2 separate regions of the Homo sapiens genome follow, and region 1 is linked to region 2. The links come from fine-mapping of genetic effects on gene expression. A gene starts in region 2. The other region holds a variant in brackets. All regions are shown on one strand. Distances are from middle to middle. Region 1 overlaps CPT1C (carnitine palmitoyltransferase 1C). Region 2 holds the start of PRRG2 (proline rich and Gla domain 2).

The links.
Region 1: its variant is fine-mapped to the expression of PRRG2 in whole blood (INTERVAL, PIP above 0.99).

What each region holds. Positions count from the first base shown.
Region 1 is chr19:49,700,849-49,705,238 of GRCh38, reverse strand. CPT1C (carnitine palmitoyltransferase 1C) reads right to left here. Exons shown (of 20, transcript NM_001199753.2): 5 at 4,384-4,390; 6 at 3,821-3,922; 7 at 3,605-3,742; 8 at 452-529; 9 at 125-232; 10 at 1-25. Among named protein-coding and RNA genes, the nearest start is that of CPT1C, 12 kb to the right of the region's middle. The variant A/G (reference allele first, on the strand shown) is at 1,867.
Region 2 is chr19:49,578,716-49,583,105 of GRCh38, reverse strand. It overlaps PRRG2 (proline rich and Gla domain 2), which reads right to left and starts at 1,790. Exons shown (of 7, transcript NM_000951.3): 1 at 1,625-1,790. It overlaps NOSIP (nitric oxide synthase interacting protein), which reads left to right and starts at 2,550. Exons shown (of 9, transcript NM_001270960.2): 1 at 2,550-2,591.

The DNA.
Region 1 (4,390 bases), 120 kb before region 2:
AGGGGCGCATTCCCATCAGCAAAGTCTGCAGGAAACCGTGGGCTGTGAGCTGCCTTCCAGGACCCACGTGGCCCAAAGGCCACAGGACCACACCTCCATCCCTAACCCACTGGGGCCCTCTCACCGGGGGTATCTCCTGGCGGTTCAGGCGGTGGCGGTACAGGAGGAGGGCATGGACGGCATTCCCAGCGCGAGCTGCCTGCAGAGGCGTGGGTGTGACATACAGGAAGTCCTGGGGACCAGGAGAGGGGATGGCAAAACACCCAGGGTCAGGTTTGCCCCCGATGGAGCCACTGACCCAAATACAGGTCCTGACCCCAAAAGAGGGTGGAATGATGAATCCCAGATGGCGCGTCTAGATCCAGGTCACTGAGCATGACCGTCACATTCCGCCCAGGTACCCCCCAACCCTAGACCTGGGGCCTATGAACCTCACCCCTCCCCTTCTCACCATCATGTAATAGTTGCTGTTCACCATCAGCGGATTTCGGGAGCGCAGGTACACAAATTCCTCCCACCAGTCACTGACCTGGGAGCGGGGTGGGGAGACACACAGTGAGGGGCTGGGGCCTGTTGGGGGAGGGACAGTAGGACAGGGAAGGCCCCAGATGCTCCTGCGTCAGGCAGGGAGGATAGAGCCAAAGAAGTCAGCCATCGTAGTCAGTAACTAGCGATCACCTAGAAATCCATCCATGGGGGATCAGTTAGCTAAACCCTGTTATACTCCGGCAGTGGAATATTACATAGCTGGTGGAAATAACAAGGTACAGCTGGGCACGGTGGCTCCCGCCTGTAATCCCAGCACTTTGGGAGGCTAAGCGGGTGGATCACCTGAGGTCAGGTGTTCAAGACCAGCCTGGCCAACATGATGAAACCCTGTCTCTACTAAAAATACAAACATTAGCCACACGTGGTGGTGCACGCCTGTAATCCCGGCTACTCGGTAGCCTGAGGCAGGAGAATCGCTTGAGTCGGGGAGGCAGAGGTTGCAAGGAGCTGAGATCGCACCATTGCACTCCAGCCTGGGCAACAAGAGTGAAACTCCGTCCCCCCCAAAAAAGAAAAACAGAACATAAATGTAAAATTTATAAAACAATAAATATGTGAAATAATATACATATGTGTAAATACATGAAAATTGTGGCCTTGCCAATACCATGATAAAATTCAAACAATGAAAAACACAAAAGAAAGCACTGTGTCACGGTTTAGCTGCTCTTGTAGGGTTTTTTGTTGTTGTTGTTGTACATAAAAAAATGGTGCGTGTGTCACTGGCAGTTGGCTTGGAGGTACAATAAAATATACAGGCTGGGCGCAGTGGCTCACACCTCTTATCTCAGCATTTTGGGAGGCTGAGGTGGGAGGATAGCTTGAGCCTCGGAGTTTGAGACCAGTCTGTGCAACATAGCAAGACCCCATGTCTACAAAAAATTTAAAAATTAGCCAGGCTTAGGGGCACATGCCTGTAGTCCCAGCTACTCAGGAGGCTGAGATGGGAGGATGGCTTGAGTCTGGGAGGTCAAGGCTGCAGTGAGCTTTGATCACGCCACTGCACTACAGCCTGGGTGACAGAGTGAGACCCCTTCCAAGAAAGAAAAAGGAAAGAGAGAGAAAGAGAGAAGGAAGGAAGGAAGGAAGGAAGGGAGGGAGGGAGGGAGGGAGGGAGGGAGGGAGGAGAGAGAGACAGAAAGGGAGGGAGGGGGAGAGAGAGAAAGATAGAGAAAGAAAGAAAGAAAGAGGCCGGGCATGGTGGCTCACGCCTGTAAATCCCAACACTTTGGGAGGCCGAGGCAGGCGGATCACGAGGTCAGGAGGTCGAGACCATCCTGGCTAACACGGTGAAACCCCATCTCTACTAAAAATACA[A/G]AAATACAAAAAAAAAAAAAAAGAAATTAGCCAGGTATGGGAGGCTGAGGCAGGAGAATGGCGTGAACCTGGGAGGTAGAGCTTGCAGTGAGCTGAGACGGTGCCAGTGCACTACAGCCTGGGCGACAGAGTGAGACTCCATCTCAAAGAAAAAAAGGAAGGAAGGAGACAGAAAAAAAGGAAGGAAAGAGAGAGAGAAGGCAGGCAGGCAGGCAGGAAAGAAGGTAGGAAAGGAGGGAGGGAGGGAGGGAAGGAAGGGAAGAAAGAAATGAGTGTGTGTGTGTGTGTGTGTGTGTGTGTGTAAACAGAATCTTGTCCAAAAGTGTGAAGAAAAAAATATTTAACCAGAAAAGCAAGGCCTGCATTCCCTTTTACTTCTCCAGATATTTCGTCCCCTTCGCTGGGTTTGACCAACTGAGGCTTCCACATAGCTGCCTCGTGGGGCTCTGCCGGGGACCCTCTTCCCTTCCCCTCTCACTCTTGCTGCAGCTTTTCTCATCCCAGCCCAGTGTCTCAATGACCTACAATGGTAGGTCTCACGGTAGCTTCCTCTGCAGCCTCCCGCCCTCCAGTCTTTCCCCCACACCAAAGCTGACCCTGCCCCTTCCCTGCTCCAAACCCTCCCATGGCTCCCTAGTACCCCCAGGAAAGAGTCCAGGATCCTCAGTCTGGAGTTCAGGCCTCTCCCACCACTCCTCACCATTCAACTCCTTTGGTTTTGTCTTTTTTTTTTTCTTTTCTTTTTTTTTTTTTGAGACAGAGTCTTGCTCTGTGGCCCAGGCCGAAGTGCAGTGGCGCGATCTCAGTTCAGTGCCACCTCTGCCTCCTGGGTTCAAGCAATCCTCCCGCCTCAGCCTCCCGAGTAGCTGGGATTATAGGCGTGTGCGCCACCAGACCTGTTTAATTTTTGTATTTTTAGTAGAGACGGGGTTTCACCATGTTGGCCAGGCTGGTCTTGAACTCTTGACCTCACGTGATCCGCCTGCCTTGGCCTCGCAACCTGCTGGCATTACAGGCGTGAGACATTGCACCAGGGCTAAGTCCTGGAATTCTGGTTCAAACTTTGGAAGATCAAGGGTGAAGCTCAGAATACTGGAGCATCTATACCCCAAACTTCAACATTAAATATATAGAGAGAGCATATATATGTTATGAGCATATATATATAAATAAATATATAAGCCTATATATAAATAAATATATATTTATTTATAATTTATAAATAAATATATATTTATTTATAATTTATAAATAAATAAATATATATTTATAATTTATAAATAAATATATATTTATAATTTATAAATAAATATATATTTATAATTTATAAATAAATATATATTTATAATTTATAAATAAATATATTTAATATATTTATAATATTTATATATTTATTTATAAATTTATATATAAATATATTTATATATAAATTTATAAATATTAATATTTGTATATAAATATAAATATATATATTTATAAATAAATATATATATTTATATATACACTATATATTTATATATAAATAAATATATATACATATATATTTTTATATATATATAAATGTGGAGGTTAGGATATAGATGTATGTGAGCGGGGCTCAGGGTATTGACCCTTGGGGGCTGGGGGCGTGTGGGTTGTGGGCGTGTCGTGGGGCAGGGCGTATAACTCGCAAGTTTAGCAGGCGAGCTCACAACCTTAGCCCTTCAGGTGGGGCGTTGGTGGCGGTGGCGGGACTCACATAATTGGACGCCCACCAGGACTTGAGCCGCAGGTACCACTGCAGCAGCGACGCCTGCAGCCTCAGGAATTCCTGCGCCAGGACCGCGGTCCAGTCGAAGTCCTCGTCGGAGAGGATGGGCCGGACCGACTCCAGGTACTAAAGGGGAGAAGAGGGCAGGTCACGCCCCCGGCCCGCCCCGGCCGCCCCAGCCCGTCTGCGCGCTCCCAGGCCCACCTTGCGCACGGTGTCCTGCACAGAGGGCACGGGCTGGCGTGGCAGGGAGCGCTGGTAACTGAACAGCATCGGGTGGCGGCCAGAGAAGATGCGGACCAGGGCCTGGGGAGGAGGAGTTACCGGGTCATTAACCCCTCACCGGAGCCAGGGAGTTGACGGGGCAGGGGTCGACAGTGGGACAGAAACCCAAAGAGAAGGACACAGAGACTTAAGAGCATCGGAGACCCCAAGAGAGAAAGGAACAGAGACCCAGAGACAGGGGACAGAGACCCAGAGAGAGGGGGACAGAGACCCAGAGAGAGAGGGGGGCAGAGACCCAGAGAGAGTCGGGGGTAGAGACCCAGAGGGGGGGACGGAGACACAGAGAGAGAGGGGGACAGAGACCCAGAGAGAGGGGGACAGAGACCCAGGGACAGAGGAGGACAGAGACCCAGAAAGAGAGGGGGAAGAGACCCAGAGAGAGAGGGACAGAGACCCAGAGAGAGGGGGACAGAGACCCAGAGAGAGGGGAATAGATAAGCGGGTCCCAGGAGAGCCTGAGCAGGGCTATGCCCCTCCCATACCAGCCAG
Region 2 (4,390 bases):
AGCCACTTACACAGCCTGTATTCTGTGCCAGATACTGTTTACCTATATAAACTCATTTTACTTTTTTTTTTTTTTGACATGGAGTCTCGCTCTGTCAGCCAGGCTGGAGTGCAGTGGCACAGTCTCAGCTCACTGCAACCTCTGTGTCCTGGGTTCAAGCGATTCTCGTGCCTCAGCCTACCAAGTAGCTGGGATTACAGGCATGCGCCACCACACCCGCTAATTTTCTTTTTTTTTTGAGACAGAGTCTCGCTCTGTCACCCAGGCTAGAGTGCATTGGTGTGATCTCCGCTCACTGCACACTCCACCCCCCAGGTTCATGCCATTCTCCTGCCTCAGCCTCCCGAGTAGCTGGGACTACAGGTGCCGGCCACCATGCCCGGCTAATTTTTTTGTATTTTTAGTAGAGATGGGGTTTCACTGTGTTAGTCAGGATGGTCTCGATCTCCTGACCTCGTGATCTGCCCGCCTCAGCCTCCCAAAGTGAATTTTCATATTTTTAGTAGAGATGGGGTTTCACCATGTTGGCCAGGCTGGTCTTGAATTCCTGACCTCAAGTGATCTGCCTGCCTCAGCCTCCCAAAGTGCTGGTGCTGGGATTACAGGCGTGAGCCACTGTGCCCGGCCTCAACTCATTTTACTTTTCACAGGAGTCATACAAAAATTAGCCAGGCGTGGTTGTGGGCGCCTGTAATCCCAACTACTTGGGAGGCTGAGCCAGAATAATCACTTGAAAGGGGAGACAGAGGTTGCAGTGAGCCGAGACTGTGCCACTGCACTCCAGCCTGGGTGACAGAGCGAGATTCCATGTCAAAAACAAAACAAAACAAAACTTTTCACAGGAGTTTTTTTTTTTTTTTTTTTTTAGACAGAGTCTCGCTCTGTCACCCAGGCTGGAGTGCAGTGGCGCTATCTCAGCTCACTGTGACCTCTGCCTCCTGGGTTCAAGCGATTCTCCTGACTCAGCCTCCCGGGTAGTTGAGATTACAGGTGCGCACCACCACGCCTGGCTAATTTTTTGTATTTTTAGTAGAGATGGGGTTTCACCATGTTGGCCAGGCTGGTCTCAAACTCCTGACCTCAAGTGATCCACCCGCCTCGGCCTCCCAAAGTGCTGGGATTACAGGTGTGAGCCACTGCGCCCGACCAGGAGTCCTATTATTATCCCCAGTATAGAGAACAGGAAACTGAGGCACAGAGAGGTAATATAGCTTGCCGAAGGTCACACAGTGTGCAAGTGTGAGAGCCAGGATTTCAGTGAAGGCAGTGTCCGCCAGAGAAGAAAGCAAGGAGCAGGCAGCTTATCTTTCTTTCCCCACTGTGTCTACAGCACCTGACACAGATGCTTATAAACATGTCCACTGGTGATCTGGAGTCTTCCCTTCCTGGTAATTTCCACTTGTGCCTCTTTCTGTGCTCATTGTCACATCCACCCACAGACAACAAAGATTACGAGAGAGGCAGAGGCAGGGGATTAGTTATATTATTGGGTCTAGGGACCTAAGTGGGCAGGGGCCCTGGACTCCTGGGCCTAGGAGCCCCAAACTTCTGGGTCTCGGAGGGGCGGGGAGCCAGGATGCCTGGGTCCCCAAGCCAGGCTCTTCCTCCAGGGACATTCACTTACCTGCCCAGAAATGTGAGCACTGCCCCTTCCTCTTTAATCGAGAACTCCTTGGCCAGCTACAGCCAGCTGTGAAAGGGGACAGGGAAGAGGGGAGGGGATAAGGAGGAGGGGCGCCCCACTCCCGGTAACCAGGCCTGATCCCCGTTTCTGGCAGGTGGGCGGAACTTGCCATTACCTGCCCTGGGCGGGACTCAGGTAAGGGACAAAGTATTTAAAGGGACCTTGGGATAAAGGACTTAAAGGCCAGAGCTCCATGAGGAAGCCAAGGTGTCGAATACCATGGGATACCTGGGGGATTAGATTCGACCCTCCTCCTCCCTCCCGACCCCTACCCGCTCTGGCTCTCCCCTGGGAGTTCGTCTGTCCGAGCTAGAAAAATTAATATCTAGGTCTCTAGGTATCTAGAAACTAGCGGGAACGATATGCCTTAGTCCCTGGGACAGCTGGGCAGTGCCGCAGTAAATCCCTGTTTCCTGAGAGCGACTTGAACGGCTTTGATTTTCAATTTCCCAATGGCTCTGTCTGTAAAATGGGAGCGTAGTTGTCTCTTCTCAATTGTTTTAAGATGCAGCAAGAAAAGTGGATGATATATTTGGGAAAGTGGGCTTCCCGATCTCTAGGGGAAGTGATTAGTCCTTAAATTTGGGCTTGGAGAGACTCAAAACCTGGGAACCAAGCAGGAAAAAACGATCTCCCTGGGAAATGCCTCGTACATAGTAAGCGTTCCCCATATTCCCACCAGTTTCAATATCCGGAACTTTCGATTAGCTACTCACGTTTCCGGAGAGAGAAAGAGAAGAGAGGACTTGAGCAAGCCAGGCGAGGCACTTCCGCAACTAGGGGCAGCTCTACTTCCGGTGCCTTCTGCTGGGCGGAAGTGGGCGGAGCGGAGGGGGAAAATAGTGCTCCTTTCCGGTGTCGGGGCACAGTTGAAGAAGCGACCGAGGGACTGGGAGTCGTTAGTGAGGTGAGTTCGAGGCGGTGCAGGAAGAGTGTTGCTGGGATCGCTTTCCTGCGGGCTAGAGGCCTGGGGTCTTGAGGGAGACTGGGGCAAGATTTTGGATTCCCGATTCCCTGTCAATCATTATTAATACAGCTGTCCGGGCGCCCCAAGTTTGAAGCTGAACTACACTCTGCTGGAGGTGGCCAACCGTCCATCGGGCAGTTCTCTCTCTCTTTGTCTCTCTCTCTCACTATAAACTCAGTCAAGTGGTAGCTAGCATCGGCCAGTTCTCCTGAGAGTTACAGTTCTGCTGTAGATGATGGCTATTTGCTGGTGGTCCCAAGGGAAGGAGTGGACTGGGATTGCTGGGGGTCTAAGGAGTGGGAGTTGAGGAGGGAGAACTCCTTTCCTGGCCTCAGTTTCTCAGACTGTGGTGGGACGGCGGGCGATACTAGATTGTGCAGTCATCCATCGCCACCTTCTCTTCACCTTTTTGACAGCCCCTTCCCTTTCGGGGTTGGTGCAGGGATTCACGTTTTCTTGTGTGGAGCTTCGGGGTCAGGCAGTCATGGATTCCCATTCTGATTGTGCTGCTAATTCTGTGAACTTGGGGCTTGAACGGTCCTTGAGGCAGTTTGATGTTAATGTTTTCTTACGAAAATGTTCAAACTTATATAAAAGTGAGAGAAGAATACAGGAATTCCTGTCACCCAAATCACCAATGATTATTTTTGCCATACTTGCTGTATTTTTTTAAACTTAAAGAGATTAAAACAAATCGTAGGCATCATGACACTTAAGGATTGTCAAAAGACAAAATTGCAACACATTTAGTGAGAAGATCTTAATTGGCATTTATTCGTGAATCTACAATCAAACAACATCTAATTATGGAAAATAGCGTGAGTGTTCCGATGAGCTGAGCAGAGGTTGTTTTCAGAGACAAAGGGCTGAGAAAATCAGAAACGGAAAACAAAAAGCTAGTTGATTAAATTGATTAACTTGATTAAATTTCTAAGTTAAAGGTTAAAGTAGAGGGGACTTCCTTTATCAGGTGGGCTAAAACTGGGTTGTTTGGGGATTTGGCTATTATCTCTCTCCTGATATCTCAGAAGATCAGATATCAACTTAGTTTTGGCTTGGAAGCATGGAACTTTAGCATGAGTGTCTCCATTTTGGTTTGGTCTGTTGAACCTAGTGCAGGAGCTCAATCCAAACCAATGACCTTCTATAAATTTTATCTAACAGGGTGCGTGTGTAAAAACCAGAAACATTGCTGATATGACCACAATACCATCATCACACTTTAAAAGAACAACCGTAATTCTAGACTACTATCCATTACGTGGTGCAGAGTCAAGTCCAGTGTAACTGTGGGTTTGTTGGAATCAGGATATAGTTAAGTAATTGCTATCGTCTTTTACATCTCTCTTAATTTAGAACTGTTCCCCCTTCCACTCCACTTTGGTTATTTCTTGGTGTAATCGATTCATTGAAGAAACTAATTCTAGTTCAGTTGATCATCCCACCATCTGAATTTGTCCCGTTTGCTTTTTTGTGGTCTCATTTTACCTGCTTCTGTTTTCTTTCTTTTTTTTTTTAAGTATTTAAAAATAGGCCAGACACAGTGGCTCATGCCTGTAATCCCAGCACTTTGGGAGGCCAAGGCGGGCGGATCATGAGATCAGGAGATCAAGACCATCCTGGCTAACACGGTGAAACCCCTTAGCCGGGCATGATGGCAGGCACCTGTAGTCCCAGCTACTCAGGAGGCTGAGGCAGGAGAATTGCGTGAACCCGGGAGGCAGAGCTTGCAGTGAGCC